2 separate regions of the Homo sapiens genome follow, and region 1 is linked to region 2. The links come from fine-mapping of genetic effects on gene expression. A gene starts in region 2. The other region holds a variant in brackets. All regions are shown on one strand. Distances are between the middles of the regions. Region 1 has its middle 81 kb from the start of MIR11400. Region 2 holds the start of FAM131B (family with sequence similarity 131 member B).

Region 1 (16,074 bases), 810 kb before region 2:
TTTTAAGATTTATTTTTATTTTTTTTTCTGTAGCATAGCTGTTCTTATCTAATAGAGTTAGTATCTACAATGGGTAAAGCATTCTCATAACTTACTAAGACAATCCAATAAAATGGCAATACTTAGTCTAAATAGGCATTTCACAGAAAAGTAAACATAAATTAACACTAACATAAAAATAGGTTCTTGGGCTAGGTGCAGTGGTTCATTCCTGTAATCCCAGCACTTTGGGAGGCTGAGGTGGGCAGATCACTTGAGGTCAGGGGTTCGAGACAAGCCTGGCCAACATGGTGAGACCCCATAGCTATAAAAAATACAAAAAATTAGCCAGTCATGGTGGGATGTGCCTGTGGTCCCAGCAGCTACTCGGGAGACTGAGGCACAAGAATCACTTGAACCTGGGAGGCAGAGGTTGCGGTGAGCCAAGATCACCCCCTGCACTCCAGACTGGGTGACAGAGCAGGACTCCGTCTTAAAAAAAAAAAAAAGAATAGGTTCTTAACCTCACTTAGAATCAGAGTATTCCAATCTGAAACAGTAAATTATGAATGCAAACTTATCAGATTTTGAAGACTGGAAAGTCTTCAAAGAAATGATAGTCCCAAATATGAGAAAAGATGTGGACTAGTGGAACTGTATTATACTACAGAAGAAAATTATAACTGATATGGTTTTGTTCTGTGTCGCCACCCTCATCTCAAATTGTAATCCCCATGTGTCAAGGGAGGGAACTGGTGGGAGGTGATTGGATCATGGGGGTGGTTTTCCCTGTGCCGTTCTCCTAATAGCGAGTGAATTCTCACAGGGCCTGATGGTTTATGAGTGGCAGTTTTCCCTTCTCTTTCTCTGTCCTGCTGCCATGTGAGACGTGCCTTGCTTCCCTTCTCCTTCTGCCATGATTGTAAGTTTCCTGAGGCCTTCTCAGCCATGTGGAACTGTAAGTCAAATAAACCTCTTTCCTTTATAAATTAAATTACCCAGTCCCTGGTATTTCTTCATAGCAGTGTGAAAACAGACTAATACAATAATTATATCAGAAAACCCTTTCTGAGATATATTCTGACAAGCAACATTTTGAAACAAATTAGCAATATAGTTGACCCTCTATATCAGCTGATTTGGAACCCAAGGATACCAAAGGCTGACGGTAAGGAAGGTGGGCACCCTTGGATTAGGATATCAGCAGGGTTTCCTGGAACCAATCCCCTCAGGATACTAAGAGATGACTGTGTGTTTAAATTACTTGAGTTCCTTTCATTGTCTTTAGGGTCCATCATGGAGAATTGAGTTGTCAATATTTATTTTAGCCATTTTGAAGGTTTTAATTGATATTTAAAAATTAACACTTAAAAACTGTGGTTATACATATATGTATAACCATGGTTTTACATATATATATATAATATATAGTATATACATTACCACAGTTTTATATACAAATATAAAATACATATTACCACAGTTTTTAAATGTTAATTTTTAAATGTTTTATATGTACATAAAACATACAATTTTTCACCTTAACAATTTTAAAATATACAATTAAGTGGAATCACGTACATTCACAAGGTTGTAGAACCATCACTGCTGTTTCCAAATGTTTTTCATGATCTCAAAGAGAAACTACACCCATTAAGCAATAACTCCATCTTTCCCATGCTTCTCAGCTTCTGGTAGCCTCTAATCTACCGTTTGTTTATATGAATTTACCAACTCTAGATAGTTAATTGATGGGAAATTATAAAATATATCTCCCTTTGTGTCTGTCTTCTTTCACTTAGCCTAATGCTTTCAAGATTCATCCATATTGTAGCATGTGTCAGAATTTTACTCCTTTATATAGCTGAATAATACTTCATCGTGTGTATAGACCACATTTTGTTTATCTCATCATCAGCTGATGGACTTGTGGGTTGTTTCCACCTTTTGACTATTATAAATAATCTTGCAATAAACACTGGCCTACAAGTATCTGTCTGCTTTCCTGCTTTCAATTATTCTGGGTGTATACCTAGGGGTGGAATTGCTGAGTCACATGGGAATTCTACATTTGACATTTTGAGCAACTGCCCAACAGTGTTTTACAGCAGCCTCAGCATTTTATATTCCCACAACAGTGTAAAAGCCTTCCAGTTTCTTCACAGCCTTGCCAACACTTAATTTCTGTTTTGTTCTTCTTTTTAAAAATTATTACAGCCATGCTGGTAAATGCGAAGTGATACCTCATTGCGGTTTTGATTTACATGTTCCTAATAATTAATGATGTTAAGCATCTTTTTTTGAACTTTTACTTTAAATTTGAAAATTGTATTATGTATACTTCAGGTACATAACATGACATGATGAGATACACACCTATAGGAAAATGGTTACTATAGTGAAACAAATTAATATAGCCATCATCTCACATAGTTACCCATTTACTCCCTGTGGCAATAACAGATATAATTTACTCATTTGGAAAAAATTCTGAATATATGAACTATAGTTTTCATGTGGCACATTAGATCTTTAGACTTCTTCATCCTGCCTATCTGCTATCTTGTATCATTTGGCCTAAATATTCCCATTTCCTATTCCCTCCCCCTGCCATCCTCCCATTAACCACTATTTCATTCTCTCTGTATATTTGAGTTTTTACAAATTTCACATATAAATAATATACACTATTTCTCTGTGTCTGGCTTATTTCACTTAGCCTAATGTCCTCCAGGTTCATCTATGTTTGTTGTGGTAAATGGCAAGATCTCATTTTTTTTTTAGGATCAAATAATACTCCATTGTATATGTATGCCACAGTTTCTTCATCCATTTGTCCATCAGTAGACACTTAGGTTGTTTCCATATCTTGGCTATTGTAAATAATGCTGCAATGAACATGGGAGTGCAGATGTCTCCAAAAGGTGGGATTTCATTTTCTTTGTGTATATACCAAGAAAAGAGATTGCTGGGTCATATAATTCTATTTTTAATTTCTTTAGGAACATCTACACTAATTTTCTTAATGAGTGCATCAATCTACTTTTCCACCAACAGTGTATAAAAGTTCCTTTTTCTCCACACTCTTGCAACTTATCTTTTTAATAATAGCTATCTTAATGGGTGTGAGGTGCTATCTCATAGCAGTTTTGATTTTCACTTTTCTAACATTTAGTGATATTGAACATCTTGGCCATTTTTATGCCTTCTTGGTAGAAATGTCTGTTTAGGTCCTTTGCTCAGTTTAAATAGGGTTATATGTTCTCTTGCCAAAGAGTTGTATGGGGTCTTTATATATTTGGTATATTAATCTCTTATCTGACATATGGTTTGCAAATATTTTTTCCAAATCCATAGGTTGCCTTTTCATGTTGTTGATTGTTTAATTTGCTGTGCAGAAGCTTTTCAGTTTGATTTAGTCCCATTTATTTTTGCTTTTGTAGCCTGAACTTTTTGTATGATATCGAAGAAATCATTGCCAAGGCCAACGTCAAAGAGCTTTTCCAACATGTTGCATGTAATAAACTGAACTTAGATAGAAGACCTAAACATTAGATATTAAGCATCTTTTCATATATTATTGATCATTTGTATATCTTCTTAGGAGGCAATGGCTTTTCTTTTCCAGTTGTTTTTTAGTTTTTCTTTGTCTTTAGATTTTAGTAGTTTTATGATTGTAAGGCTAAATGAGGTTGGGGTTGAACTTCACTTGGGAGATTTGTCGCTGTTAGTGTTTTTAGTGCATATTCTGAAACATTTTTAATAGACTGTACAACAGAGAATAAGTAAATTCATTGACATTACTGGGAAACAGAGTTCTTACAAAGGGAAGAGAGATACAATAAGAAATAGGGAAAGACAAGGAAGAAATCTGCGGTGTTTATTTGAATTGGAGGTATCAATATGAACTTATTATTTAAAAATTATGTATTTCCTAACTCTAACCATACAATATGTAAGAAGCAATATGAAGTCGATGGACAATTGCTTTATTTCTTTGTACTTGTGTTCCCAGTAGTAATGGGCAGAATTATTGCATGTTATTTAATTTCTAAATGTTTCTAAAAGAAACAAAGCAGAAATGGCTTCTTCTAGATCCAGAGCAGGGAAAGTCAAAAACATCTTTTGGCAGAAATCAAGGAAGTTTCATGACCCAGAAAACATAGAAAAAAGCCACAGAACCAGTTTCATGGGGCTCCCAGTAGCCAAACACGAGTATCTAAACATTAGAGCATAATAATGAGGACACTGAATTATAACAAATTTTAAAAATCTATAAGGCTATAATGACAATAAAAAGATGTAGGTAAGAATGTCTTCGTTACAGAATAATGCTAGTTACTAAATTTCATTAGAAAATCAATGTAGCCATTAATGTAGTTACAGACAGAGACCATCAGTTGATGTCAAAACCAACATCTGAAAGGTTATTGGAGACCAAGATATCTATATTGTGTCAAAGTATCACTCCACTAATTGCTTATTAACTATAAAATATAAATGATATCTTTGCAATGGAGAGATCTGATGTCTGTGATGTTAAATTTAGTATCGCCAAAAATGTGTAAAGACAGCATTATATGTTCTTGTAATTGATCGGATGCAATGGGAAACACACATCAACTATGGCATGGTATTTGCCAAAATATTTAACCTCTGATAATGTGGAAATTCTGATTGGGGGTCATTTTACCAGTCAGCTGACATGGACTCTTACAAAAATCAAGACCATGAAAGTTGGAAAATATAAGTGGGCCAAAGAGATGTCTAGTTTAAAAGTAGCTAAAAAGACCTGACAACCAAAAGAAATGCATAATCTTTGATAATGTCCTGTAGAAAAAAAATTAAAACCAAAGGACACATTGGTACAACTGGAGAAAGGGGAATGTGAAGCATATATGAGAAAATAATGTTATATGAATATTAAGTTTTTGAGTGTAATAAAGGCATTTGTGGTTTTCTAAGATAATGGCCTCTTTTTAGGAGAGACATACTGAATCGTTAAGAATAAAGTGTTTTATTTCAGAAATTGAGGGTAAAATACACAAAAAGAGATAAAGCAAATGTCAAAAGATGTTAATAATTGAAATACATTTTAATATTCTCTTTGTTGTATGATTCAGCTCTTCCAAAAGTGTCAGTTTTTTAAACAAAATTAGAAGAAAAAAATCTTAAGATCTTGAAATGTTGGCATGATTTCAGTTTTGTGGTGGCTATTTATTATATTCATTTTCAATATCTTTGAAATATTCTATAATTACCATAAAACAAACACACAAGATAAGGTTTCTTTTAGCCCTATAGTGTACTTTTTCTATAGGGACAGGCTATGATTTTTAAAAGTCCCCCCAAAAGATAAGAGAATTTATAGTCTGAGGACAAAATAGCTGATATCTCTGAGATGAGCACAAAACTTAGCTAACAATGCATGTCAAGAAGCTGTTTAGTAAATACACAGGACTGTTTTAACTGAAACAGGAGATTCTGAGTTCCCTACAGGTTGGTCAAGAACTCACAGATGTTGGGGAATTGCCTGAATGTAAGCAGAGGAGTGGTAGTGCTTGTCCTAAATTGTGGTTGGATAATATGTGTTTGTGTAACAGGGAGGGGGCTCTAGCAGGACTGAAACACTGTCTGTGGGGAGGAGTCTCTAGCAGGACAGAAGGATCACATGGAGCTGGAATGAATTCCCTTCAGTCCCCCACAAACACTGTCTGATAGTAGCCCTGATCTAATTTCCATTGTTTAGAAGTCCCACCACTCTCCCTGAGCCATGGCTGGAGGGCCTAAGCCCAGTGGCTCTGAACCATTGGCCATCAGGAGGCACTGAGGTTTGATGGCGTCCAAATGTTTTTGAAACAGGGCTAAGTATTGCCTGAGAAGTTGAGTTTAAAGGAAAAGTGTGGCTTCATCCTAGCATTCAGTATCTAGTTTGCAGGTGTTTTGAGTGGTCAATGGAAACTCATCTTTCTCCACTGATGCCAGTGGGTTCTGTTCGGCAGTGAAATCTGAACTGTAGCAAACCATTGAGTGGAGAATCTTCTGAGCCCACTTGAGGGGTAGATGGAGGAGAGCCAGGAGCCAACCTGAATGCTCACAGACCCATGCAGAGGAACAAGTGCCTCCTTGGGAGAACATCAGAGAAACCTTAGCACCTAACCTATTCTAGTGTGTCCTGGACGATGGACAGGAGAATGTAAGGGGAATGTAGAAGATGGGAGTGGACAACTGTAGATGTTTCCAGATATCTCAAATTGCAGTAACACCACAAATATTCTTAACAAGAACCAGATTTTCCAGAACTCTGGCATTTCCTTCCCTGAGCAATGAGACGGCCCTTTGGGCCCTGACACAATCATGGGTGTTTTTTGTTCATTTGTTTTGGTGCTCAGGAAGCAGGGGAGGCATGAGAATACCTGGGGAATGTCTTTCCTAGAAATAGGATGCCCCAATTTCAAGTATTTCACATGCAGCTTGATAGGTCCTGTCTCCAGCCACCCAGCCTCCACTCTCTCAATGCTGTTGTCATCCAGGGCCCTAAGCTCTGGTCACACGGATGGAAGAGGTAGTGACACTGTGATGTGAAGACACTTTCCACCATGAAATTATTAATTGGTGTCAATATAAGGCAGGCTCCGACTAGCAGCTTTTCTACCACAATGATAGACAATTTATATGGAAAAGAGATGGTTCTGATAATTCTACACTCACAGGTCTTCACCTGATAACCTTGACATGTGTCCCCTAGGTTTTAGGAACTTGGATTTCTTTAGGCTGAGTTGTACTATTCCCTTTCTCTGAACACACATGTCATTGGTTAGTTCATTCATATTGATTCTCAGGACTTCTCCAATCCCTCAAGCCTTCCCACTCTACCACTCAGATAAGGAGAAGTGTGTCTTAACTAATGTTGCATAATTTTTTAAAAATTGCTGGATACTAACACTGCAATTCAATTGTAAAATATGATAGAGGTGTAAGTGTTTTAGATCCCAGAAGTCCTGCTCAATTTTGCATTTATTGTTAGATATTCACCCTGATATTTTCAGGAATTAGAGTGTTCTTCATCCATTTGGGTTAAGATATCAGAACTTACTTTCAATTCATTGGTGACCAGAGACTACAGGCAGAATCATAGTGAAGGCTTGATACATAATACATAATGAAGATTGATAACAGCAAAAAGGGAACTAGTCATTGGCCTTCAGATAAAATGAAACCTCCCAACTTTGTGCTCAGGGAATTATTTTACCCCTTTAGGTTAGAGTATGTCAGCTAGTTCAATGCAGTTCTAGGATAAAGCTGTGTCAATTACCCTAGAGGACTGGGAGCATGGAGGACCTGGTAGAAAAGAAATACCCAAAGAGAAGGAAAATTACACATAAAATCAAGAGGTCACTAATTGATATATCTATTTTGAGTTGCCTTTGAGACTTCCACGTAGAAACATCTAGCACAGGATAGGCCTAGAGATGTAGTGACAGATCTAATCCCCCAAGCCCTGAATATGTGAGTGAGGACGCTTGGATGAACTTCCAGTCTATGAATACATTAAACAAACTTTTAGCTCTGTTTTAGTTTACAACAACTGTTTTCTAAGAACTTAAGCATTTGTGGAGACAATGATGTCACTGTAGGAACTTCTCTGTAAGGACAGCAACATCCCACTTCCTCTGCTCCTGCTCACAGTGACCCTGATCTGGCAAAGCTTCCATCCTGCCCTGACCCTGCCATGGGTACCAGGCTCCTCTGCTGGGTGGCCTTC[TG/T]TCTCCTGGTGGAAGGTGAGTCCTAGGAACACCATGATCCTCACATAATCTCCCAGTGATTATTCTAGTCATTTCCTTCTATTTTAAAATTCTTTTTCCCCCACAGAACTCATAGAAGCTGGAGTGGTTCAGTCTCCCAGATATAAGATTATAGAGAAAAAACAGCCTGTGGCTTTTTGGTGCAATCCTATTTCTGGCCACAATACCCTTTACTGGTACCTGCAGAACTTGGGACAGGGCCCGGAGCTTCTGATTCGATATGAGAATGAGGAAGCAGTAGACGATTCACAGTTGCCTAAGGATCGATTTTCTGCAGAGAGGCTCAAAGGAGTAGACTCCACTCTCAAGATCCAGCCTGCAGAGCTTGGGGACTCGGCCGTGTATCTCTGTGCCAGCAGCTTAGACACAGTGTAGCAGAGACACTTCCCTCCTGTGCAGAAAACCGCAGGACTCTCTCCTCTCTACTCAGCTCACAGCAGCCTTTCCTTATTCCTCATCCTCCCAGGAAAGAAGTGAGTTTTCAGATATAGCTAGGATTCATATAGTGGGAGGAAATGAACTATTTCTTACAACATGAGCGCTATAATTGTTGCTTGAAAATGTGTCTCAGGGATTTGAAACACTTCTTGGGGACAACTCAAGAAACCTAAAGTGACTTATCAGAGATTGAGTCCTCAGGGGTAGTGATGGTTTATCTCCCATAAAAGTATGTGATCATGAAACATGTACAATAAACTTAATAATACAGATAGTGATTATACCAAGCAGCAAACAGCAGGCTCCCCTTATGTAGTTGTCAGCATGTGAATGACTTGTTACCCTTAGTGACACCCCGGCTGTCTAGCAAAGTCTCAACACACAGTATGTGTTTGGAAATCTTTTTCCTTCTGTTTTATTTTTGGTAAAGTATGCTAATAATGATGTTGTTAATGATAGTGATTATAATTTCAGGTATGTTATTCAGCCCTTTTTCCAGTTCAAAGAAATGCACACAAATGGATACCCCGGCAACCAGGTGCAAATCTTAGCTCCACATGAATTCTACTTCTCCTGAACTCTCTAACTCTTCTATGTAATCATCCCAGCCCAAGAATATATCTAGACCTGGACCAGTCAGTTCAGAGGACATTTCTACGTGTCTGCCTTGTATATTAAAAGTTCCTTAGTGGATTGAAATATTCCTTGTAAGAACTTCTGAAGCAATCAATTGCCCTCTCTGATAATATACACTCTGTGTGTCTAGCTCCATATTCATTACTCTACTTCTGCCTAAACTCTCTAATACTAGAAATCTTTCTGAAGTATTGGTTAGAATTACTTAAAAAGCAGCATACTGGAAATTGTCTGAAAGCACTGTCACTGTCCATTTGCCCCTCCTGACTTCCCTCCCCTCCTTATCCAATCTAATACCTGATGGCAAGTCAGGCTTTATTTCCATTTGTTCATTGCACATCTCCCTGTCCTTTATTCCTGTAATAAAACCTCACTGATGTGATGGATTAAAATGACCACTCACTCACCATCTCCTTGTCAAAATTTCTATTTTTTTCTTTTCCCAATCTGCTATGTTAGTTATAGTTAATAACTCCCTCATAACATTTTCTGAGATCACTTTTTATTATTTGAATATAGGACACACAGTTGTTTCAGAGTCTGTCTGATCATTTTCACCTCTAAGATCTTCATAGGATATTTTTGTGATTTTCTTTTTGTGCTGCTTCTCAGTTATGGTGCTTGAGTTTTCATGGCATTTGTATTTCTCCTTACCAATCTGATGATGTTTGACACTTTGCCAAACACTATAGTTGTAGAAATAATTTTGGGGGTAGGATGGATATTTTTCTGCAGAGATCATTTTTCTGTGCTTCTGAAAGTGCATGTAGATATAAACAGTCAGGCTCCCTGAATCACAGTTTAAGGCTTGAGGTGTCCTGGAGCATCTGGAGAACAGGTTTGTCTCTGGCTTATTGTTACTAGTGGAATTTGGCAATGACACGTTCGGTATGTTCTGGGCTTTGCCTTTACCCCCGTGGCCTGTGAGTCAGCTTCCTGAGTGCTGAGTCAGGATCTGCAAATGCCCGCTAGGGCAAATGGACTGCTGTGCTCACCTCCCGGAGCTCTTGCCCTCACCAACATTCCAGCCAAATTATTATTATTTTTTTAGGACTTTAACTAAAATTTTTAATGTTGTTTTTGATATTTTTTTTCCAACTATGTAGATAACAACAGAAAGAGTGAGTGCCATTATCCTTAATTATTGGGATTAAGGTGAAAATAACTTTACCTGGAATTCTAATTTTCCTTGTATTTTAATGTTAGATTCTTTGTGATTTGTCTAATATTCAACTTAAATGGTATAGAGATGTTAAACTCTGATATCAAATACTTTAAAAAAACTTATCAAGACCATTCATAATCCAATTGAGACATATCTTTGTTTGGGGCATGTTGTTTTTAGAGTATTCTTCTACTGTTATTTATTTCTATCACATAACCTCTGTGTTCCATTGGACCATATGGCAAGATGGGAAAGACAATCAAGAGAATGCTGAGATCTGGTCAAATAGTACAGATTGGGCTTCAAATTAATTTAATTACTGAGTTCTGGGGGTGGATTTGTGCTGTTTTATGAGTATTTCCTGGGGCAATGGTCAAAATTAGAGGGAGTAACTGATATGTGGCTATTGTTTTACCCCGTTTAAAGCCAATCTCCTGGGACAACACACCCCATTTTGTGGGGCACCCCGAAAGTAATAATCCTGTTTTAATCTTCCTATTCCTTGCCAAATCTTCTCTACAGAAGGGAAATCAGTTATACTATTTCCTCTCTTCATTTTAGTTTAGTCTCTCCTTATTTTCCCGTTTTCCTCCTGGTTCCCTAGAGAAAAGTAGATTATTTTCAACATGTGCTAAGATCAGTGAGGAACTCTCTCTTCCATGCAGGGTGGCCTGCAGTTTGGAGGGGATAGGGAATGGGTTAAATTCTGTTTCAGCATCATGTTAGCCAGCCCATCGAGTTTCACAATGAGACCTGCTGCTTATCAGTATTAAAACTGACATTATGTTTCCACCTTTCTGACTGCATTGTCAATGTCTGGGGTGTTTCTGTCCTACCCCATAGCACTAATATTATTTGTTGGCCTTTTAACACCAACTAATCATAATATCCTATATCCCTTGTACTCAGTGAAATAAAGCTCAAGTCCCTGTGTCCTGGCAAAAGAGAGCACATTTGTGCTGTTCTGGCCTACTGGCCACTAGGAGGCACTGTGGCTTCGATGTCATCCAGAGTCTATGGGGAGGAGCTGAGATTGCTCCCTGGAAGATGGTTAAGAATAACCCCGAGGTTGGACCTAAATTCAGGGAGTTGGTTTGCAGATGTCTTGAATGATGGCTGGGAATAAAGGAATTAGTAACCGACGCTTCCTCCATTGTAGAGGTGGGTTTTGCTTTAAATTGTGCTTTGAGTGGGGCTGAGTGACAGGTGTACTTTGCAGTGCATATACCTCTGAGCTCGCTTAAGATGTAGGGGCACAAGGAGCTGAGGTGGTGCAGGGCCCATGTTCTGAGCTTGGAAAACCAGAGAAGCAGTTCTTGTGTCAAAAGAGCCTTGGAGAGCCTGGCCCCAAACCAGCCCAGGCCAACCCTACCTGCTCTGTGAGAGTAGAACAGCAAGAAAGGGAGGTGCTACCCAGGACCACAGCAGAGGGACCCTGTCGCCAGGGAGATGAAAATCACAGTGATGCCACGACCATATCCACGTATGAGGCATAGTCCAGTGTGTCTCCTGGAAGAAGATGAAGCCTGGGCAGACATAAGAATATGTTTTTGAATAGGCTTCCCTTGGCCTGATTTTAAATTCCTTCCATGTGATCATGCATCTGTCTGTACCTGTATTTTGTACCCGGCTTCTGCCTCTCACCCATCAGTCCCATGGCTACTAGAAGGTATTAAATTTCTATTGACAAAAATTACCACTAATTTGGTGGCTTACAACAATAAAAATTTATTATCTTACAGTTCTGGAGGTTAGAAGTCCAAAACCAGGCTAAAATCCAGGTATTGGCAGGGCTACATTCCTTCCCGAGGCTCTCAGGGAGAACTATTTTTCTCTCCTATTCAGCTTCTAGAGGCCACCAGTGTTCCTTGGCTCATGGCCCCATTCAATCTTCAAAGCCAACAAGGACTGGGTGAGCCTTTGCTCACTCTGCATCACTCTGACACTCACTCTTCATCCTCCCTCTTCCACATTTTAGGACCCTTGTGATTACATTGGGCCCATCTGGAAAATCCAGGACACGCTCCCCATATTAAGGCCAGCTGATTAGCAACCTTCATTCCATTTGGAACATTCGTTTCTCCCCTTGCCACATAATTTAACACATTCCCAGTTTCTGGGAATTAGACATGTACATCTTTGAGAGGTCGTCACGCTGCCTGCCACACTTGCTACCTGGTTACACGAAGTAGTAAGCAATTAACTTTTTGAAGGCAGAATTATGGCCATAGTTTTATATCCTGGATCCAACAGACCCTGCAAAAGGATAGAGCCCACATGGAAATAGCCCCTCCAGTAACACAAGCTAGTCTGCAAACTAATGCCCTTTTACTTTGGGAAGTGCTTTTGACTGCAGGGGACTCAGAAGCATGCCTCTGTGCCAACAGCAAAAATGTGCCCTTCTCTTTTGTTGGCAAGTAACTTAACCAACCAACCCAAAAAAAAGATCTTTCTCTCAGCTTTCCATAATCTCTGAGACGAAGTAGGTTTGGAGAAGTGGGGTTACAGGGGAAAAAGCCAGGTGTTAATGATGAAAAAACATTGAACTTTTCTAGGGGTAGTAATAAGATTTAATTCAAGACTAGAACATTTTAGCTGCAAATCTTCAAGAATAAGACAATATTATCCCCTTTCTGTTTTATTGTGGGACTAGAGAATGTGAGAGAGGTTACATTCCATGGGCTTTGGGAATTTAATATGGTTCAAGGATAAACACACCCAGGTTTTTCACTGCAGAGAAGAGCTTCAAATATAATCAGTTTTCAGGTCATCAGCTCAGCTCTTGTATCCCTAACAATGCAGTTGACATGCGTCTTCTCAGATGTCTAACTCCTAACTCACTGAGGGATACTTTAAGTACATATAAAGGACTAGAAGCACCAAGCTACCAGTGAGAGGAAGAGGAGAGTTTGCAGAGAAGCTGGCTTGAAATAAGACAATGAGTTCATCTTTAAATACTTGCCATTTGAGGTGCAGATGGATATAGTTGGCAGGCTCCTATGTAAGGCATGTTATGGAGAAGCTACCGTGAATTGATAATATCAAAACAAATATCCAGGGAGCCTCTGCAAGTGTGCATCTCTATTTCACACCAATTATAGTTGAGTTAATTCCTGCCTGATTCATCTCCCAGAGATGCAGCCTCCTCTTAAAGAAGTTGGGGGTGGTGGCCCATTCAGTGATGTCACTGACAGATGCATTCTGTGGGGATAAAATGTCACAAAATTCATTTCTTTGCTCATGCTCACAGAGGGCCTGGTCTAGAATATTCCACATCTGCTCTCACTCTGCCATGGACTCCTGGACCTTCTGCTGTGTGTCCCTTTGCATCCTGGTAGCGAGTGAGTCTTCAGAATATTTGCCATCATCAGGCTGGGCTTCTGCATGGATGATCTCATATATTTTCCTTATTCTGACGCCCAATTCTGTCTTCTTTCATAGAGCATACAGATGCTGGAGTTATCCAGTCACCCCGCCATGAGGTGACAGAGATGGGACAAGAAGTGACTCTGAGATGTAAACCAATTTCAGGCCACAACTCCCTTTTCTGGTACAGACAGACCATGATGCGGGGACTGGAGTTGCTCATTTACTTTAACAACAACGTTCCGATAGATGATTCAGGGATGCCCGAGGATCGATTCTCAGCTAAGATGCCTAATGCATCATTCTCCACTCTGAAGATCCAGCCCTCAGAACCCAGGGACTCAGCTGTGTACTTCTGTGCCAGCAGTTTAGCCACAGCGCTGCAGAATCACCCCTTTCCTGTGCAGAAAACCCGGTGTTTCCCCTTCTCCTTCTACCTCCCAGCAGTCCTGGGCAAAGTCTCTGCTGTTCCTCCCTCCCTATGAGAAAAAAGTGGTTTGGGGGTATGAAAAAGACAGAAAATGAGAAGGGATCAACATAGGAAACCTTATGTTGGTTTGAGGATTACAAAATGGGTTTTGAGGATTCCTTAAAAATTGTCTCTGCTCAAAACACATAGGAGTAAGATAAACCTTGGCTACTGACACTGGAGATTTCCCTGCCCTCCTGCATTTGCCATCCCATGAGAATGGTGGGGGCTCTTGAGAAGGGCTGCATTTTCTGAACTGTGAGGCCCTCTTCATTCTCTCCTAACTCTAAGCTGCAAACAGAAATTTCCCTCACACGTTTTCTAGATTGTAAAAGAAAGTTCTTCTTTACTATGATTGTGGACGTTCCTTTATAATGCCAATTTCAACTTTACATTACTTCAGGATTTTTCACTACTCCTAAAGAGTGTCTCAAATGTGGCTAGAGCAAGCAGGTTAGTACACTAGATGTAAGCTACCTGGCCTGGAATCTAAGGATCCATTTGTCTCTGTTCTGCGTAAGATGAGCCGGGTGCTGGCCAAAGGCTGTGCACACTCACAGAGCACTGATGACGCCTCCTGGTAAGGACCCACACTGGGGTATCTAAAAGCAGACAGGCATGTCCAGTCTTCTGTTGCCCTGTTTCCTTTCTGATTATATGTCCTTAACACACAAATTTACATTTTCCTTCTTATTTATATGAGAAGTTTCTATACAATACCTGCAATCCATTCTGAGTGGTTATAATTTCTGTGTGATATTCATATTTACATGCTGATTCCTTCTAAATACCTATCATGGTATCATTGACAACTGAGGCAAAAGACCCCTATATTTTGAGTGCCCAAGGCCATTGAGGTTTTTTGGAGCTCTGCCATAAGCCCAATTCCACTGTGTCATTTTCCTATTTTTCTTTCCTTTTTTTTTTTTTGATTAGTGGGTCCTGACTTTCAAGATGAAAATAGTGCAGAATTCCTCCCTGCTGCTTCCAGATCATTTTCCTTCCTACTTCTCTAAAGCCCAGCTGCATTATAGGCTTCCTTTAGCCTGATTTTAAATTCCTTCCATGTGATCATGCATCTGTCTCTACCTGTATCTTGTATCTGGCTTCTGCCTCTTACCCATCAATCCCATGGCTACTAGAAGGTATTCAATCTCTGTTGACACAAATTACTACTAACTTGGTGGTTTACAACAAAAACTAATTATCTTACAGTTCTGCAGGTCAGAAGTCCAAAACCGGGATAAAATCCAGGTGTTGGCAGGGCTGCATTCCATCCTGAGGCTCTCGGGGAGAACTGTTTTTCTCTCCTTTTCAACTTCTAGAGGCCACCAGTGTTCCTTGGCTCATGGCCCCATTCGATCTTCAAAGTCAACAAGGACTGGCTGAGCCTTTGCTCACTCTGCATCACTCTGACACTCACTCTTCGTCCCCCCTCTTCCACATTTTAGGACACTTGTGATTACATTGGGCCCACCTGGAAAATCCAGGATACACTCCCTATATTAAGGCCAGCTGACTAGCAACCTTCATTCCATTTGGAACATTCCTTTCTCCCCTTGCCACATAATTTAACACATTCCCAGTTTCTGGGAATTAGACATGGACATCTTTGGGAGGTTGTCATGCTGCCTGCCACACTTGGTACCTGGTTACAGGGAGTGGTAAGTAATTAAATTTTTTAAAACAGAATTATGACCACAGTTTTGTATCCTGGGTCCAACAGACCCTGCAAAAGGATAGAGCCCAAAGGGAAATAGGCCCCTCCAGAAACACAAGCTAGTCTGCAAACTAATGCCCTTTAACATTGGCAAGTGCTTTCAACTGCATGGGACTCAGAAGCATGCCTCTGTGCCAAGAGCAAAAATATGCCCTTTTATGGCAAGTAAGTTAATTGATCAACTCAAAAAACAAACATTTCTCTCAGCTTTCCAGAACCTCTGAGAGGAAGTAGGTTTGGAGAAGTGGGATTAAGGGGTTGGCAGGGGGCCGGAGGAAAGGTCAGGTGTTAATGATGAAAAAACATTGAACTTTTCTTTTCTAGGGGTAGTAATAAGATATAATTCAAGACTAGAACATTGTAGCTGCAAATCTTCAAAATAAGACAATCTTATCCTCTGTTTTATTGTGGGAATAGAGAATGGAGAGAAGTTCCATTCCACGGGCTTTGGGAATTCAATATGGTTCAAGGATAAATAAACCCAGGTTTTTTCTAC
Region 2 (16,074 bases):
GACTCCTGACAGAGTGTGGGTAGGACACAGGCCTGGGAGCCGGAGCCTTGGAAGGGCGTGAGGAAAGAAGGAGATAGGGCAGTGAGCCTCTTAGGCCTCTCTCTCCTACCCGAACTCTGCCTGTGCCAAGGGCTGGGGAGGGGCTACCTGGGCAGTGGCAGGGCCAAGTGCTCTCCAACCCCACAGCACCGCTGCTTTGCTCCGCCCATCCTCTGCCTGTGCTCTCACGGTAGTGCTGGGGCGCATATGCTGCTCAGTCCCCACCAGCATGGATGCCAAGTGTGGGAGGGCAAGCTTGTGCCTCACCATACACCATCCTGGAAGGAAGAATCCGCTGATTTTCCTCTCTTCCTCTGGTAGGAGGCCTGGGGAGGCAGGGAGGACAGCTGTGAGGCTGTTTGGGAGTCCTGGGAGGAGCTGAAGAAGGGGCAGAAAGTGCCGAGTGCCCACCCTGGCCCTCAGCTGCAACCCTGCCTGGCTGAGGGAGTGACAGCACCGGACTCCTCCCTCCACTCCACTCAACCCTGAGTGCCCAAGAAGTTATAAAAATGTAGAAAAGGCAAAGAGAAAAGTGTAAACAGCTTCAGAGGACAGGGGTGAATAAGGGGAGACAGCCCTCATGCTCCCCCTGCTGTTGGCGACACCTGCATCCTGCGTTGGTGTATCCAAGATGGGTGTCCCCACACCCTCCTCAGGCTCCCGGAGCAGGGATGGAAGAAAGCTGAAAGGGAAGCAAGAGCTGGAGCAGCCAGCCCTGGCTGGGTCTTTTCCCAGATCCTTAGGATCTTCCTTTTAGCCATGGGATATTAAAGATCCCAGAGCAAGGGGCTGTGTTTGTTCTTAGTCTCCTCAGTGACTCTCTTGTCTCCGGGCAGGCCTTGATAGAAAGAACCACATCCGTGCCCCCTGTAGATCTCAGCTGCCACATCCACCTCCTCCTCGACTCCTGATCTCAGAAGCCAAATGACCTGCTGAGGCAGCCTCTCCACCCTCCCCATGGACGTGCCCTTCAGGCAGCCTCCCCTGCGCCTGTCCAGCCATGTCCAACAGCCCCTGAGGTCTGTTCTCTCAGTAGGGATGAGCTGGGGCCACAGCCAGAGAAAACAGAGTTGGGAAAAGCAAGAGTGAAATGGAGAAAGGAGGCATTCAGACAGCAGAGTTACAGCTCCTGGAAGACGAAATCGGGGCGTGAAGAACTGAGATCCAGTCTTGAGCACAGCTGCGCTGCCCCCGTCCTCAGGGTGCACACACTGGAGGCTTTGTCGGCACAGACCCAGAAGCCCACAGCCCAGGTCCTTCTCCACAGCCACACCAAGCTCACGGCCATCTAGTTGCCCAGGTCTCAGTTCCCAGGCCTGTGGGTTTCTAGAGTGTAAGCCTGGATAAAATCCCATCCTGGTCCTCCATTTCCAGGAGAGGACTGGAAGCTCCTGGGTTCCCCAATGTTGTCTGCCCAGTTTCAGCTGTACTGCTGGGGGGAGGGAGGGTATGGGTCACAGCCATGGCCCTCAGGTGGGAGTGGAAGGCAGGGCATTGGGGGAGGAAACTAGTTGTTGGCCTCGCCTTCCTCCTCATCAAAGGACTGCACACCTGAGGATGTGACGTCAGACACCTTCCGGCTGAGAGCGGTAGACATCTCAGGGTCTTCTCGTGGGGAAAGTGACTCCAGGTCCCGGCATCCCGCATCCTCTTCCTCCTCAGGTGCCAATGGCCTCTTCTCCTCCTCAGCAGGGCCCCTTGCCAGGTCCACTGCGCCTACCCCCGGAGCCCAGTCAGTGTCTCCCCCCAGCAAAGGTGGAGGCTCCAGAGCAGAGTATCCTGAAGCTGGTTGGGAAGGTCCCATTTCATGCAAGCTGGGTTGTGAGTCATCAAATGCAGGCCCAAGATAGGATCCTGTGGCCGGAGAGGCAATGAGGGACTGATCGCTGGCTTCCCAGGCATCTGACGACCCCAGACAGTACATACCCTGGGACACGTAAGAGTGAGGCCATCCATCCATGGGTGCTTGAGCCAGGGCATCTGGAAAAAGAATCATGGAGGTCAGTGGGGCCACAGAATGTCAAGGGCAGGAATGACAGCACAGACAGCACAAGAGACAGCTAAGAGACAGCACAGAGAACTGGCAGTAAGACACAGAGTGCACAGTGAGTAGGGAGGACAATGGGAAAGCTGAGATGGACAAGGAAGTCTTAAAAGAACGGAGCTGAGTGGAGGCAGCTGAGATAGTTGGGGAGGCCTCATAGGCTCCAGAGTTTGGATTCTGGAACATCTCTCACCCTGACTGTCCATCAGTTCCTGGTAGTTGTCACTGTAGTTGCAGCCCAATGGCTCCTGGGTGGAGTTCACACTCATGTCCTCACCATCCATGGAAGACCAGGCCATGAGTGTGGCCTCAGAGATAGCAAACTGCTCCATGACGCCTGGGGGAAGAAATGCAACAACCACAAAATACCTCAGGGAATCCTTAGACATGTGCGTGGGGTAGGAAAACATCTTAGTGCAGCACTGTTCAGTAGAAATATAATGCAAGCCACTTATATCATTTTAAATTTTCCAGTAGCCACATTTAAAATTAAAAAGAAACAGGTTAAATCAATTGAAATAATAGATCTTATTTAATTCGATATATAAAAAGATTTTCATCTCAACATATAATCAAAATAAAAGTTATTAATGAGATATTTTACATTCTTTTATTTATATGAAGCCTTTGAGATCCAGCTGGTATTTTATACTTATAAGCACATCTCCATTCAGAAGAGCCACATTTCAAGTTCTCAATAACCACATGAGGCCAGTGGCTAATGTATTGGACAGCACAGCCTTTGTGTATGTCCCCAGAGAAGGGAGAATTGTAGGGGACTTCCTAAAAAATCAGATTTAGGATTCCTAGGGGAAAGAGTTAGGGGTCTTCTGATGAGATATCCTAAGAGATTCAAATTCGAGATTTCCAGATATTTATCTTTGGAGGTTTTTAGGAATTGCAGTCTAGAGAGTAGATTTCAAGATCAACAGAGAACCCCCAAGAGAGCATCGTGGGCTTGTGGGTCCACCATAATATAAAACTGAAATTCAAGGGATTGGAAGGAAAAGGGGATGGGTAGACCTGGGGATCCCTATTCTAGTCAAATCCATGAGCGTGTTGAAGCTGGTACTGCTCCTGCCCCCCACCCTACATGTTTGTCACCCTGTTCACTGATATTTCTCCTCCCACCCATACCACCAACTCAATACTTCCTTTCTCTTCCAGACCTATCCCTTTCTAGGCATCTTATTTAGACCTGCACTACAGCTTGGCCACTCTTGTAGGCACACTGCATGCCTGTTATCAGACCTACACTACTTTCCTGGAACTAAACCTCTTCTGTAGGCCTCCCGTCTCTCACACAGTTCCCTTAATCTTCTAGTGGTTGTCACAAGTAATGAGTCTAGTAGGCAAATTCATGACTCGAAATGCTAAAGGGCAAAGGCTAAAAGAGATCCCCAAGGCCTTTCTTTCTTTCAAAGACCAAGGTCTCCCCATTTTTTTCCCTGCACTTGAGGGAGTTCAGGTTTGGATAGTCCCGTGATGAGGAGAGAAGGCATCTGGGATGGGTGGACCCACAAATCCCATCTAATTACACGCATTTTCTGAGATGATTATAAAAATATGTTTGAGGGCACTTATTTGAATTACCACATCAAAATACTTAGAGCTGTTTGGGAAATGTGAATCTACGGTCAAAGTATGGATGGAGCTAATCCTGCCACAGGGGATCAGGTTGGAGGGTCGGTCCCTGGCCATCCTGCAAATGTGTCTCTTGAGGCTTTAGGGTACCTGTACCTGCTAGAAAACGTGCCTCCTTCTCGCCATCGCTGAGGTCGGAGTAGGCATCCGTATCCCTGCGCACGGACTCATGGCTGTGTTGTGGCTGAACAGCTGGTGTCTTCCCCCAGCCCTGCCACTCAATCATGTGGGCCACCCGGCCTTGCCCCATGGCTGTGGGCTTTGTCACATGGTCCTTCATGCTCCGTGAGATCCCTATGGGGCCAGACATTTCCCACATCCTCCAGAATATCACACAATACCCATAACCAGACCCTCCCAGTTCCTCCCACCCCAGCCCCATGAGGCTCCATCCCACTGGGCCAGGCTCCCCTAAGGACTCCATAGATGGGGTAGTGGAGGGAATGGCCTGGAGGATGGGAGGCTTGACAGAAGGGTGAATAGGTCAGGGGGTGGGGATGAGGGTCTTCATCAACCTCGAAGGAGCAGGGAGACTGAGCCAAGGAGTCTGTCAGCATTATTTTGTCTGAAGGCATTCTTACATCAGGAGTCTCACCTGAGAATGATGACTTGGCCAGGGCCCCAATGCCATAGGCGTTAGAGTTTCGCTTAAGCTTCGGAAGAATGGAAGTGGTGTCCTCCATGGAGAGCTGGGATGGGAATGTGGGAGGAAGGGCAGAGGAATAAGAAGGTACGGGCGTGCTTTATACATGGAGGAGGTTCATGGTTTCCAGGAAAAAGCATTCGAGCTAGGGCAGATGATAAGAAAAGCTACTATACCCAAGAGTCCCAAGGAGGGATATATCCCCAGTGCTCTGGAAAACTGGGGCACAGGTTGAGAACGTGAGTGCTCACAGTGCCTATTGGAGCCAGGGAATACCGTGCTGGTTGGAAGGTGCAAGGGAGAAGATGAGGAGGAGGAGTTCGGGAGGATGGGGAGGTCTGGGGGCAGCTGCACTCACGTTGATGCCGTCCCAGGAGAAATCAGTTCGAGTTTGCTGTGAGGAGAGAGGAAAGGGAATGGGCATCCCAGTCACTCGCAGGAATGCAAGGAAGCCCCCTTCCTCAGAGGGCCTTCCAGGAGTGCGGGATGTGGGGAGGGCTTTCCTGAGGTTGATGCCGCTAACTGGGTTCTCCATGTGGACTGCTTGGCATGTGTTGTGAGAAATGTTCTGTAGAAGTGTCAGTCTGAAGGAGTGTTTGGGTTGTTGCCTTGGAATTGAGGAAGTGCAGGCAGCCAGAGACTTGGGGTGGCTGAGTGAGGTCTCACCTCAGTCGATGGCCGATGGAGGCTGCTCCCGTGCAGTGAGCTGGTGCTGTCCATGTTGATTTGATCGACATCCTTCAGGCCCTTCCAATCCACTGCAATCACCTCATTCCCTGAGGGGGCCAGAAGGTTAGCCGCCGGCCCTCACCTCCCTGTGCAGCCGAGGCGACACCCTGGGGCCAGCCCTTCACACCCCTTCCTTACCCCAGCTGCCCATTTCCTCTTATATCCCTGCACTCTCCAAATTCTAGGGGAGACAAGTAGTAATGCTGAGCCCAAATATTCAGTTTTAGCTCAACCCAGAATAGTGCACTCAGAAAAAGTGATGTATGGCCTTATTTGTTGTTGTTTATGTGGAGGGGTCAGAGGTTGGGTTTTATCAGAAAACCAATTATTCCGTCCTGAGGACTCTTGGAGGGTTTCTGTATGGGAGCTGGGCTTTTTCTCTATTACAAGTCTACAGATAAGGGCAGAGCTGCTCTATGAGGAACTTTTCTCTATGCTTAGGGTGGAAGGGATGTGTCTCCCCCGGTGGGCCCTTCCTAAGAGTCCATGAGTCTGACTGACTGGAAGAGGACTTCCTGGGAATCGAGGCAGGAGTTGGATAGCAAGGAGTTGGGTGTGTCCTCCCAAAAACAGTGAGCAGAGAAACCAAGGGTGAGCTGGAGGCATTTCACCTGACTGTGGGGAGAGAAGTGATGGATTAAAGTGGAGGGAAGCTGGTGAGCAGGAGGAGAAAAGAGAACTTTTTAAAATAGGAATTAAGAAAATAGGAATTCAAGTCAGAGAGAAGACAGAAGATGGTGGGAGGGGTGGACAGGGTCTGAGGGCTGAGTGGGAAACTGCAGGACTCAGGGGAAGGAGGGTCCTTGTTACAGCCGGGCCAGAGCTCCTGGTGGAGGGAGACTCCTGGACTGAGGGCAGGATGGTGCCGCGGAGAGTCTTGCGGAAGAACTGCTTGGGTCTTCATAAAGGGACTATTCAAGCAGCAGATGGCTGCCTGAACCATCTGACCGTACAGGCCCTTTATACTCATGAGGTTTTACAATTGTGAGTTTAGGGGTCGGCTCCATTTTTGGGAAGGGGAGCATTGAATGGGGCTGGGCACGAGGAGGCATTCAGCACATCAGCAGGGCTGGGGGAAAGGAAGGGGCTTGTGGTGAACCGGACTGAGGAGGGAGGACCCTCCAAAGTTGGCCTGCTGTCCCCTGGGGCTCCGCGGGGTGGTGACTGGGGGAAAAGAGGAAAGATGGCCCTCCGGACACAGCAGGAATGGGGCAGGTGGAGAAGAGCCTGAGGAGAAGGGAGACAGGGGAGGGCGGGGTGCGGGGGGAGAGGGGAGCGGGAGGTGGCCTTTGTGAGAGACGGAGAGCTGAGTCAGAGCTGTGGGGGGCAGCGGGGAGGGAGAGAGCCGCGGAGAAGGGGTGAAAGCAGAGGAGGAGGGGGTATCCATGGAAATAAACCGGGTCTCAGGGAAATCAGGCTTCTGGAGAGTGAGTTTGTTTGTAATAATAATACGAATTATTCTCTCAGCCTGAGGTCACCGGGAGGTGTAGGCGGGAGAAATTGGGAGTTGGAAAGGGGAAGAATGGGGGAGGGGGTGGGAGAGGGCCGGATGAATTCGCTGAGCGGCGAGAGTGGAGTGGGTGCCTGGGTGGGGGTCAGGGGCGGTAGCCAGGCAGAAGCTGGAGGGAGAAGATGGATTAGGAGGCGCCTCTCTTCCCTCCCCGCGTCAAAGGTAAATAAAGAGCCGGCCCCGCCCCGCCGGCCCCCGCTGACAGGTGCAGGCGGGTCCCCGGCCGCCGAGGCAGGGCCGGCCCCACCCTCCCGGGCCGCGGGCTCCCGACCCCTCCCAGCGCCTCGAAGCCCCCATCTCCTCCCCGCGTCCCCCAGCCCCTTCCCTCCACCCGGCCCTGGCCCTGTCCCTCCGGGCGTGGAACCCGGGCTCATCCCGCCCCCGCCCCAGAGGGAAAACGCACGTGAACAAAGCGAATCGGAGGAGGCAGGAACGACAGTAAAAGGCAACGGAGAGGGAGAGAGAGATGGGGCAAAGCACCCGAGCCAGATGGAGGCGGCGGCGGGGGGTGGCGTGGGGGGCGTGCGAAAGAAACTCGGGGCTGGCGCGGAGGCCGAGGGTCCTTCGCGGGGGGCTGCTCCGGAGTGGGGGATGCGAGGAGGCGCTGGGGACGGCGGAGCAGAGGCGGATGGCCTGGAGGGGCAGGGATGAGGGGACCGAGCGTCGGGCCGAGAGGCAGAGGAGAGGAGGGCGATGGAGAGGATGGAGAGGACCGCGCCTGCGGGAGGGCGACGGGGAGAAGGAAGCGAGCCGAGCGGGATGGCAGCCCCGGAGGCGCAAGACGAGAGCGGGCAGGAAGGAGGGACAGAGGGACCGCGGGCGGACGGAAGGAAAGTGAAGGAGCTAGCAGGGCAAGGCGGGTGCGGAGCGGGGCGCCCGGAGGCGCGAGGAGAGGGATGGGGGAGGGGGTCGGAGGGCGGCCCGGGGGGCCCAGCCCTGCCCCCGCCCGGCCGCGGTACCCACCCACAGTCCGGGAGCCGATGCAGCCCATGGCTCCGGGGGCCGCAGAGCCGGGCCCTCACCGACTCGGGGCGCGCGCCGGGGGGAGCACCGGGAGCCGCGCCGCCGCCCCAGCCGCTCTGCAGCGCCGCGGCTGTCTCCGCTCGGCTCCGCTCCCCCCTCCCCTCTCCATCCCTCCCCACGGCAGCTCCGTCGCCGCCGCCGCCGCCGCCGCCGCCGCCGCCTGGCTCCCCCGCCCCGGCTCGGCTCGCCGCGGCCGGGGAGGGGGCGGCCCGGGGATTGGCTGCGCCCCGCGCCTCCCCGCCCCTGCTCCGGCCGTGCCGGGGCGCTCCCTCGGGGATCTGGGGCCGCCGTCGCCGCCCCCCTCCTCCCGCCCGTGCCAAGCCCCGCTCCCGGGGCTCTCTCCTGGAGAACCCCGGCTTGGGTTTCAGGAGCCGAGGCACGAACCCAGGGCCTACCCCGAGGTTCTGGTTGATGGATTTTGCGGGCCGGGGTCAGGGGATGCCCTGAGAGAAAGTGGGGTGGTGGTGAGAATAAAGCCAGGCCCAAGGGCCTTTGGCCACCAAATTCCGCAAACACTTGTTTTCCTCCTGGGGCCGCATCTGGGACACACACAGGAACGTGATTGGACACAGCTTTGGGCTCTGTTGTTTCGAGTGCGCTATTTTGTCCATCCAAACAGAAGGTGAAGTCTTTGCAAGTGAATCGTGTAGTCCACTTCTCTGTGCTCGCTGGACATTCAGGGGTGGGTGTGGGGATGTGCAGATAGTTGACCTCCAGGCCTGGTTGGGGATTGGAGAATATGAGGAGGACAGTTCATTCGCAGTAGACTAACAACAATGTCAGGACCCGAGGCTGGCTAGGAGACATCGTCTTGAATCCAGTTTAACTTTTCTGAGACGTGATCTTCTCGGACAAATGAAAGCAAGGCGGTCCCGAAGCAGCAAAGAGAGAGAAAGATTGGCCTCTGGCTAGTGGGACTGGGCCAGGTAGATACCTCAAGCCCCATGGGGAGGAGATGAAGGTCTAAGTTGCAAGGGTTAAATGAGCACTGTGGTTACAGCAGGTAAGAAGTGGAGTCCAGAAAAGATGCATGAGAAAGGGCAAGGAGACCCTTTTGTCTAAGGTGTACCCAGAAAGCCCAAAGTGTGAGAGAGTGGGCAGGTGGGCATTCACAGAAGCAAGTGCCCATCCAGGCTCTGACTGCACCTCGCCCACTTTTAGGTCTCTCCGAGGTTGCAGAGAGAGAAGGCAATGGGCCAGGGGTCCCTGGTGTGGGCTCCTAACAGGGAGGCTAAGTCTTATGGATGCAACTTTCTAACCTTTAGATTATGAATGGAGAGCTACATCCCATGGGGTGGCAGATGAAGATGTGCAAGAAGAAGACACTAACAACTGAATTGCAGATTGAGGAGATGAGATTATGGTGACAGAATCCATCTTCGGTGTATGTGCATGAAGAAATAAGCCAAATCTACATCTATAAAACCGCGGGAAGGAATGAGATAATAATCAGTTGCAGGTCTGCTTAGATTTTAATCGTTTAGTGTAGTTCGTGGCAGGGTCTGATACCCTATTTCAATAGTGGAGAGAATTAGAAAGCATTTTCTTTTTTCATATCTACTATTATTGGTTATATAAAAGAAGTATCAAATAGTTTCTGCTTTCATGGAATATACTGTCCAGTCGCAAAGGAAAGAAGATGGAGAGATGATTAAAAAAAAAAAAAAGAACAAACAGCTTCCATTATTCTAGCAATGCCCACACACCCCTATTGTTTGAGCAGAGAAAACGCTGACAGGGGACTGGCCAGGTAAGGAGGAACAGACCACGTGGCCATTATGCTCTTGCCTTCCCACCTGAAACTTCTGTCTCCTTATGGCTCTCCCTGAGTAATACATATATTTATATATGACTACGTATCTCTTACTGTGGTTCCAACTTGGATGCAAACCTCTCCCCTTGGTCTCCTTAACACAACTATATAAGGCTGCATTTATCCAAATGATTTAACATGAGGGATTCCAGGTCTTGGAGACTCAGTCCCATCTTGCATTCTGTCTTGAAGGTATTTCCAGTCCCTCCCCACTACCCACACAAAAAAAGTAAAATATTCTAGGCATATTCCTGGCCAGCTTCCTTCCTGCTCCCTATAGGTCTTCTTATACAAGGATTCTGCTACTTCTCACTAGTTAAGGCCATTGTCCCAGTCTCCTTGCCAAAGAGGTCCAGGGCACAAAAAAAGTTTAAGAACTTCTGGACTTTAAATACATACTTGGCGGGGGGGTTCTCTAATTCTGCAGGGGCTTAACCCCCAAATAAAATGATCAGGCAAGACACTTATCCCATTTTGAAGCTGGGGTCCCCAGGAATAATTGTAGGTACTTCGGTGGTACCTGCAGGATTGAAAGAAGGTACCAAAGCTTCACACTGATCCCCACAAATGGAGAGATGGCTCCAAAACACAACTTAATCAAGTGTTCCTTTTATTTTATTGGGATATATTAGATCAAAGTTAAAGGTCTATGAAAAGATTCAATTGAGAAAGGGAAGCTCAAAGTACAAGAGAGGGGAAGATTAATTAATATTGAATGTAAATTCCTAAAACCACCTGGAGGGATGGGAGCAGAGCTCAGGGAGGGGGATGAGACTGTACAGGAGGAGCCCAGCTCTTCTTCCAGCAGCAGGGAAGACGGGGCAGATGCCAGTGGGCTGCATGTTTGGTGTCAGGAGAATGAGGGATTCCCATCTGACGGCATCTACTTTCTCTGACAAGAAGGAGGCAAGATCATTTATTGAGAGTCAGAATGAGAGAGATAGAGAAAAAAATAAAACTCACTTTAAAGTGCAAATATCAATATACAATTGATTTAAAGAATAGAGTTTTCAGTCTATTCTTCCAAACCTCTAAGAAAGATATTCTTCTTGCATTGCAGTTGAGAGAACTGGGGCTGATAATTCAATTAACTTCCTTTTCCCTAAGATTTCCCAGTTGGAAAGAGAAAAAGCTAGCACTTTTTTGTTTGGCATTTTGTTTTGTTTTGTTTTTGAGACAGGGTCTCACGCTTACCCAGCCGGAGAGCAATGGCATGATCAAAGCTCACTGCAGCCTCGAGCTCCTGGGCTCAAGTGATCCTCCTGCCTCTGCCTCCCAAGCAGATGGAACTACAGACATGTGCCCCAACCCTCGGCTAATTTTTTGTATGTGCCTATTTTAGTAGAGGTGGGATTTCACCATGTTGTCCAGGCTGGTCTAGAACTCCTGGCCTCAAGAGATCCACCCGCCTTGGTCTCCCAAAAGGTTAGGATTACAGGCGTGAGCCACCACGCCTGGCTTACTAATTTTTTAATTTTTATTTTTGTAGATGGGGGTCTCACTATATTGCCCAGGCTGATCTTGAACTCCTGGCCTCAAGCAATCTTCCTGCCACAGGATCCCAAAGTCCTTGAATTACAGGTGTGAGCCATCGCACCTGGCCAAAAAAGCCAGCATTTAAACTCAGCTCCTCAGAGGGAAAATCTATTCTGGATGTTGTAGAAAGTGCTTTATTTGTTCACTTAAAAAAACTAAAGTTACTCAACTCAGGACATTTGAATGGATACACGTTCTTTCACGCTTGTCTTTTTTTAATTAAGGTGGGACCATAAACTGAAGAGAGGAATACATCTATCTACATTTCTAAATTTTGAAATGGGAAAGCAATGATCTTTCTTCAGAGTGATTTGTAGCAATAAGTCTTTGGTGCTTTCATAAAATACTGATGATAAGTGTCTTAGTCCCTACTTATCAATGTCCTTGTATGGTGTTAGAGTATCTATCTTCAGGCAGCCCTGAAGATCAGTCAGCTTTGGGGCACTCCTAGTGGTTCTCAAATACCCTATTTGCTAAAGGCCAGAAGTGAGAGTGCTGATGCTGGAAAACATTGGTAAGAATAGTCTTGGGGACTAGGTGGAAATCACGAGGGTCAGTAACAAAGGTCTGTATTCTTTTTTTTTTTTTTTTGAGACAGAGTCTCACTCTATCACCCAGGCTGGAGTGCAGTGGTGAGATCTCGGCTCACTACAACCTCCACCTCCCAAGTTCAAGCAATTCTACTGCCTTAGTCTCTAGAGTAGCTGGGACTACAGGCACCCGCCACCATGACTGGCTAATTTTTGTATTTTTAGTACAGATGGGGTTTCACCATGTTGACCAGGCTGGTGTCGAACTCCTGACCTCAGGCGATCTGCCCGCCTTGGCCTCCCAAAGTACTGGGATTACAGGTGTGAGCCAATGCACCTAGCCTGAGGTCTGTTTTCTTTAAAATGAGAATGATTTCCTAAATATTCAGTCAACAGGAGGACCAAGAGTGGGGTTTAGGGGCATTAGGTTGCTGACAAGGGACCCCATTCATACACAGGGGCAGACTCAGAGGCAAGTCATGGATGAGTGCAGATGTTTGTAGTGTGTAAGTTGTATTCCCACATAGTAGGAAGTGGCCATAGAATCTGTCCTAGTGGTCGATATAGTTCTCCCCCGACCCCTACCTGCCATCCCCAGCTGGTTTCCCAGAGTAATCAACAGATGAGGGTCCTGGCCATTGTGCTGGGGCACAGCAAGTTTGCTGAGGAAGGATGGCTCAGCCAGTTAGTTATAGAGGATGAGAGGGTCCATGGCAGAAGTTCTGTGGTTTCAGCGTTGGTGGTGGGGACAAAAAGCCCTCACATTACCAATCTCTGATCTGTTGGACACTATGAAAGAGACCAGCACAGGACATGCTCATTTGACTTTTAGACAAGGTTTGAAATCTTGTAAAATATTGGGGATCTAAGGTGAGCTCACTCCCACTTTTAGTTAGAAAAGAAAGCTTATCTCTGGGCACGGTGGCCCACACCTGTAATTTCAGTACTCTGGGAGACCAAGGCGGGCAGATCATGAGGTCAGGAGTTTGAGACCAGCCTGACCAATATGGTGAAACTCCGTCTCTACTAAAAATACAAAAATTATCCGAGCATGGTGGTGTACACCTGTAATCCCAGCTACTCAGGAGGCTGAGGCAGGAGAATCGCTTGAACCCGGGAGGTGGAGGTTGCAGTGAGCCAATATCACGCCACTATACTCTAGCCTGGGTAACAGAGCAAGACTCCATCTCAAAAAGAAAGAAAGAAAGAAAGCTTATCGGCATGGGCAAACGTGGCAGGCACATTCTCCTTAGTGTAGTCCCCAGGCGCACACCTCCATGAGCCAAAGCCCTCCTGCATGGGCAGGTCAACGTCCCCAAATCACGTTCTGTAGGATTCAGCAGAAGAGAATGCCCAGACAACTGCTTCTTTGGTGACTGTCATAGAGCCTATGCTTCAGATGACCAAGGGGATGCATTTGCCCTGTGTTTTCTTTGGGAAGCACATTTGTGGGAAAGCCTGCAACCCCTACTGCAGATTTAGGGGTTCCATCCAAACATTCTGATAAGAAAGGCCAAGCCAGCAGATCGCGCCTGCATATCTGCCAGAGAGCCTGGAAGAATGTCAGCGCTTTCCTGCTGCTTCCTGGTCAGGTCCCAAGCACACACAGCACCTCAGGGTGTCCTCACCATGACCAGGCCACAAGCAGCAGCGACCAGGCAGGATGCCAGGACCAAGGAGGCAGGGCATAGAGTCTGGGCAACCATGAGTCAGAGGCCAGGTGGGTAGTAAAAAATGGAGTTCATAAATCCCAGAGAGAAGAACCAGATGGGATTTTTAAAGGTCAAGCCAATCCCAGAGCACTGACAAAGAGAGGGAAAGATCAAATAAAGAATACAAGGCAGTTGTTTGTTCCAGCCTCAGTAGGCCTATCTGCCAGTTTTATATTCCTTCCTCCATGGAGAACCAATGAGAACCAGGAACTGGAAGGCTTGTCCTGATTGTCTCCGATGCCTGCCTGTCTAGTATTTATGAACTCAGGGGAGAGGGGCAACAGATGTCATATCACACCTCTGAAGCCTCCCTGTCTCCCCTGCTGGGACCCTTTAGCCCTCACCTGTATGCACATTCCTCTAGGAGAGAGCTCCTGCCTTGTGCTTACAAGCCATCCTCCCCAGCTTCTGCCTCTGAACCACAGCCTGATGGTTGAGGCTCTATTACTACCTGTCAGACTTCTCTATCACCAGGCACAGCTGACAGCCTACCTCTCAGATTCCTGGATATATTTTCCTTCTGAGTTCCCCAGTTCTTTTCCTTTGCTAGCTTTTGGGATATCCTGCAACTTCAGCTTGGATTCCTCTTACAAACACTTGTTTGGACGGAGATCTGTTTCACCTACAAAGTCTAACTACCTGAAACCTTTTATCCTTTCCTGCAACTGATCCTGTTCCTAAATAATGTGTTTAATACATAGTGGGTAGATGTAGCTCCAGTTGGCTATGTCTTTATTTAAGTGAGCCAATCAAGTCCAGAGAAAAAACAGTGAAGGCATTTTCCCGACAGTGAAAGAGTGGTGGATATATAGGGCATTAGTTACAGATGACTGAGTGTTAAAACTGGTTGAATACTTAGAAATCAAGTTCCTTGCTGTACTTCCACAGACAAGGAAAATTCACCTCTCAGATTTTTACAGTCACACACTTAGTAAGTGGCTGAGTTAGTAAGTGGCTGAACTGTAACCAAAATTCAGGTCCTCTAATTCTTAGTCTAACATTCTTTTCCCTATCCTAAGATGCACCCCTAAAGCTATGTTACATTATTTTTCTATGACTTTTATTATAACATTAAGCCCTGTTGAAATAAGCTCAGGCCTCATAATCTTTTTGCTTATGGAGACTGTTCAACTTCTTGCAGATAAAACAGGTTAAAAAAATGTTTTGGCCGGGCGCGGTGGCTCACGCCTGTAATCCCAGCACTTTGGGAGGCCGAGGAGGGTGAATCACCTGAGGTCAGGAGTTCGAGACCTGCCTGGCCAACACGGTGAAACCCCGTCTCTACTAAAAATACAAAAATTACCCGGACATGGTGGTGGGCACCTGTAGTCCTAGCTACTCGGGAGGCTGAGGCAGGAGAATTGCTTGAACCCAGGAGGTGGAGGTTGCAGTGAGCTGAGATCGCACCACTGCACTACAGCCTGGGCGACAGAGCGAGAATCCGTCTCAAAAAAAAAAAAAAAGTTTTAAGCGAGTAGATCTCCTCATAAGCATTCTTACCAACCACAATAAAATTAAAAGAAAAAAAAAGACCATTGTTCTTTCTAACTTAGGAGTTCAGAGCTCATTTAAGAATGGGTACTTAATCCTAGTGTATAGGTTCAGACCACCGTTTGGTTAAGGTTTTGTGATGGTGATAAGCTAATAGGGACAAGGCATTGCTCTCCTGGGTGGGGGTCCACTTGAAAGCTGTTCACTCACTGAATCAATCAATCACAATTATCCTGCCAGGGCACCCACACAGGCAGGAAGGTCCAAAGGACACTGGAAATTTTGAACGCCAGGTGCTGGGTGTTTCTCTCTTTAACTTAAAGAAGAATTTCCTTTCCAACCTCTTTGTTCATGTATATGCATGAGGTGGCTAGTGGTAGTCAAGCCTGAATTTTATTACTGATGGTGGAAAACTGTGTTGGGGGCAGGGCCAAGGAATGCAAGCAATGTCTTCCTTCTAAGGTGGGAGCTGGAATTTGCCCCTTGATCTTTCTCTTCCTGGAGCTCTAGTTTCTCTCACAGCCAAAATTTTTGAAAGAGCTGCCGGCACTCATCTTCTCCATTTCCTTACTTCTCTGCACTCCTCAACTTACCCAATCTGGCATCTTCACTCTACTGAAGCAGCTCACACGGGGGGCTCCCCTGTCAGAGGCAATTGAACCAGAGCAACTCCATCTTGAATAGGAGCTGGGTAAAACAAGGCTAAGACCTGCTGGGCTGTGTTCCCAGACGGTTATGGCATTCTAAGTCACAGGATGAGATAAAAAGTTAGCACAAGACATAGGTCATAAAGATCTTGCTGATAAAACAGGTTGCAGTAAAGAAGCTGACTAAAACCCGCCAAAACCGAAATGGCGACGAGAGTAACCTCTGGTCTTCACTGCTACCCTCCCACCAGCGCCAACAAATGCCATGGCGACCTCAGGAAGTTACCTTATGGTCTAAAATGGGGAGGTATGAATAACCTACCCCTTGTTTAGCATATAATTTAAAAAAATACACACACATGAAAATGGGCAACCAGCAGCCCTCAGGGCTGCTCTGTGTGTGTAGTAGCCATTCTTTATTCCTTTATTTTCCTAATAAACTTGCTTTTACTTTCCTCTATGGACTCGCCCTGAGTTCCTTCTTGTGCGAGATCCAAGAACCCTCTCTTGGGGTCTGGATTGGGACTTCTTTCCAGTAACACCCTTAGCCTCCATGTTAACAGATTTTGTTCATTTCTAACCTTAAGTGGCACATCAGGGGCATTTCATACCCTCGTGAGGGACTCATGGTTACTCCCTCATTCCCAAACACTCTTTCTTGGTTCTCCTCTTGACTTTCCGGCTGCTCCTTCTTTGTCTTTTTTTGTTAGTTT

What was found.
Region 1: its variant is fine-mapped to the expression of FAM131B in whole blood (INTERVAL, PIP 0.97).

The regions. Positions count from the first base shown.
Region 1 is chr7:142,547,170-142,563,243 of GRCh38, forward strand. It overlaps TRB, TRBV11-3 and TRBV12-3. Among named protein-coding and RNA genes, the nearest start is that of MIR11400, 81 kb to the left of the region's middle. The variant TG/T (reference allele first, on the strand shown) is at 7,745.
Region 2 is chr7:143,355,004-143,371,077 of GRCh38, forward strand. FAM131B (family with sequence similarity 131 member B) reads right to left here and starts at 7,710. Exons shown (of 7, transcript NM_001031690.3): 1 at 7,573-7,710; 2 at 5,037-5,146; 3 at 4,729-4,764; 4 at 4,323-4,416; 5 at 3,824-4,021; 6 at 2,277-2,420; 7 at 1-2,019. The coding sequence starts at 7,600. The coding sequence ends at 1,547. It overlaps FAM131B-AS1 (FAM131B antisense RNA 1), which reads left to right and starts at 6,703. Exons shown (of 3, transcript NR_183342.1): 1 at 6,703-7,054; 2 at 8,187-8,254; 3 at 8,898-9,262.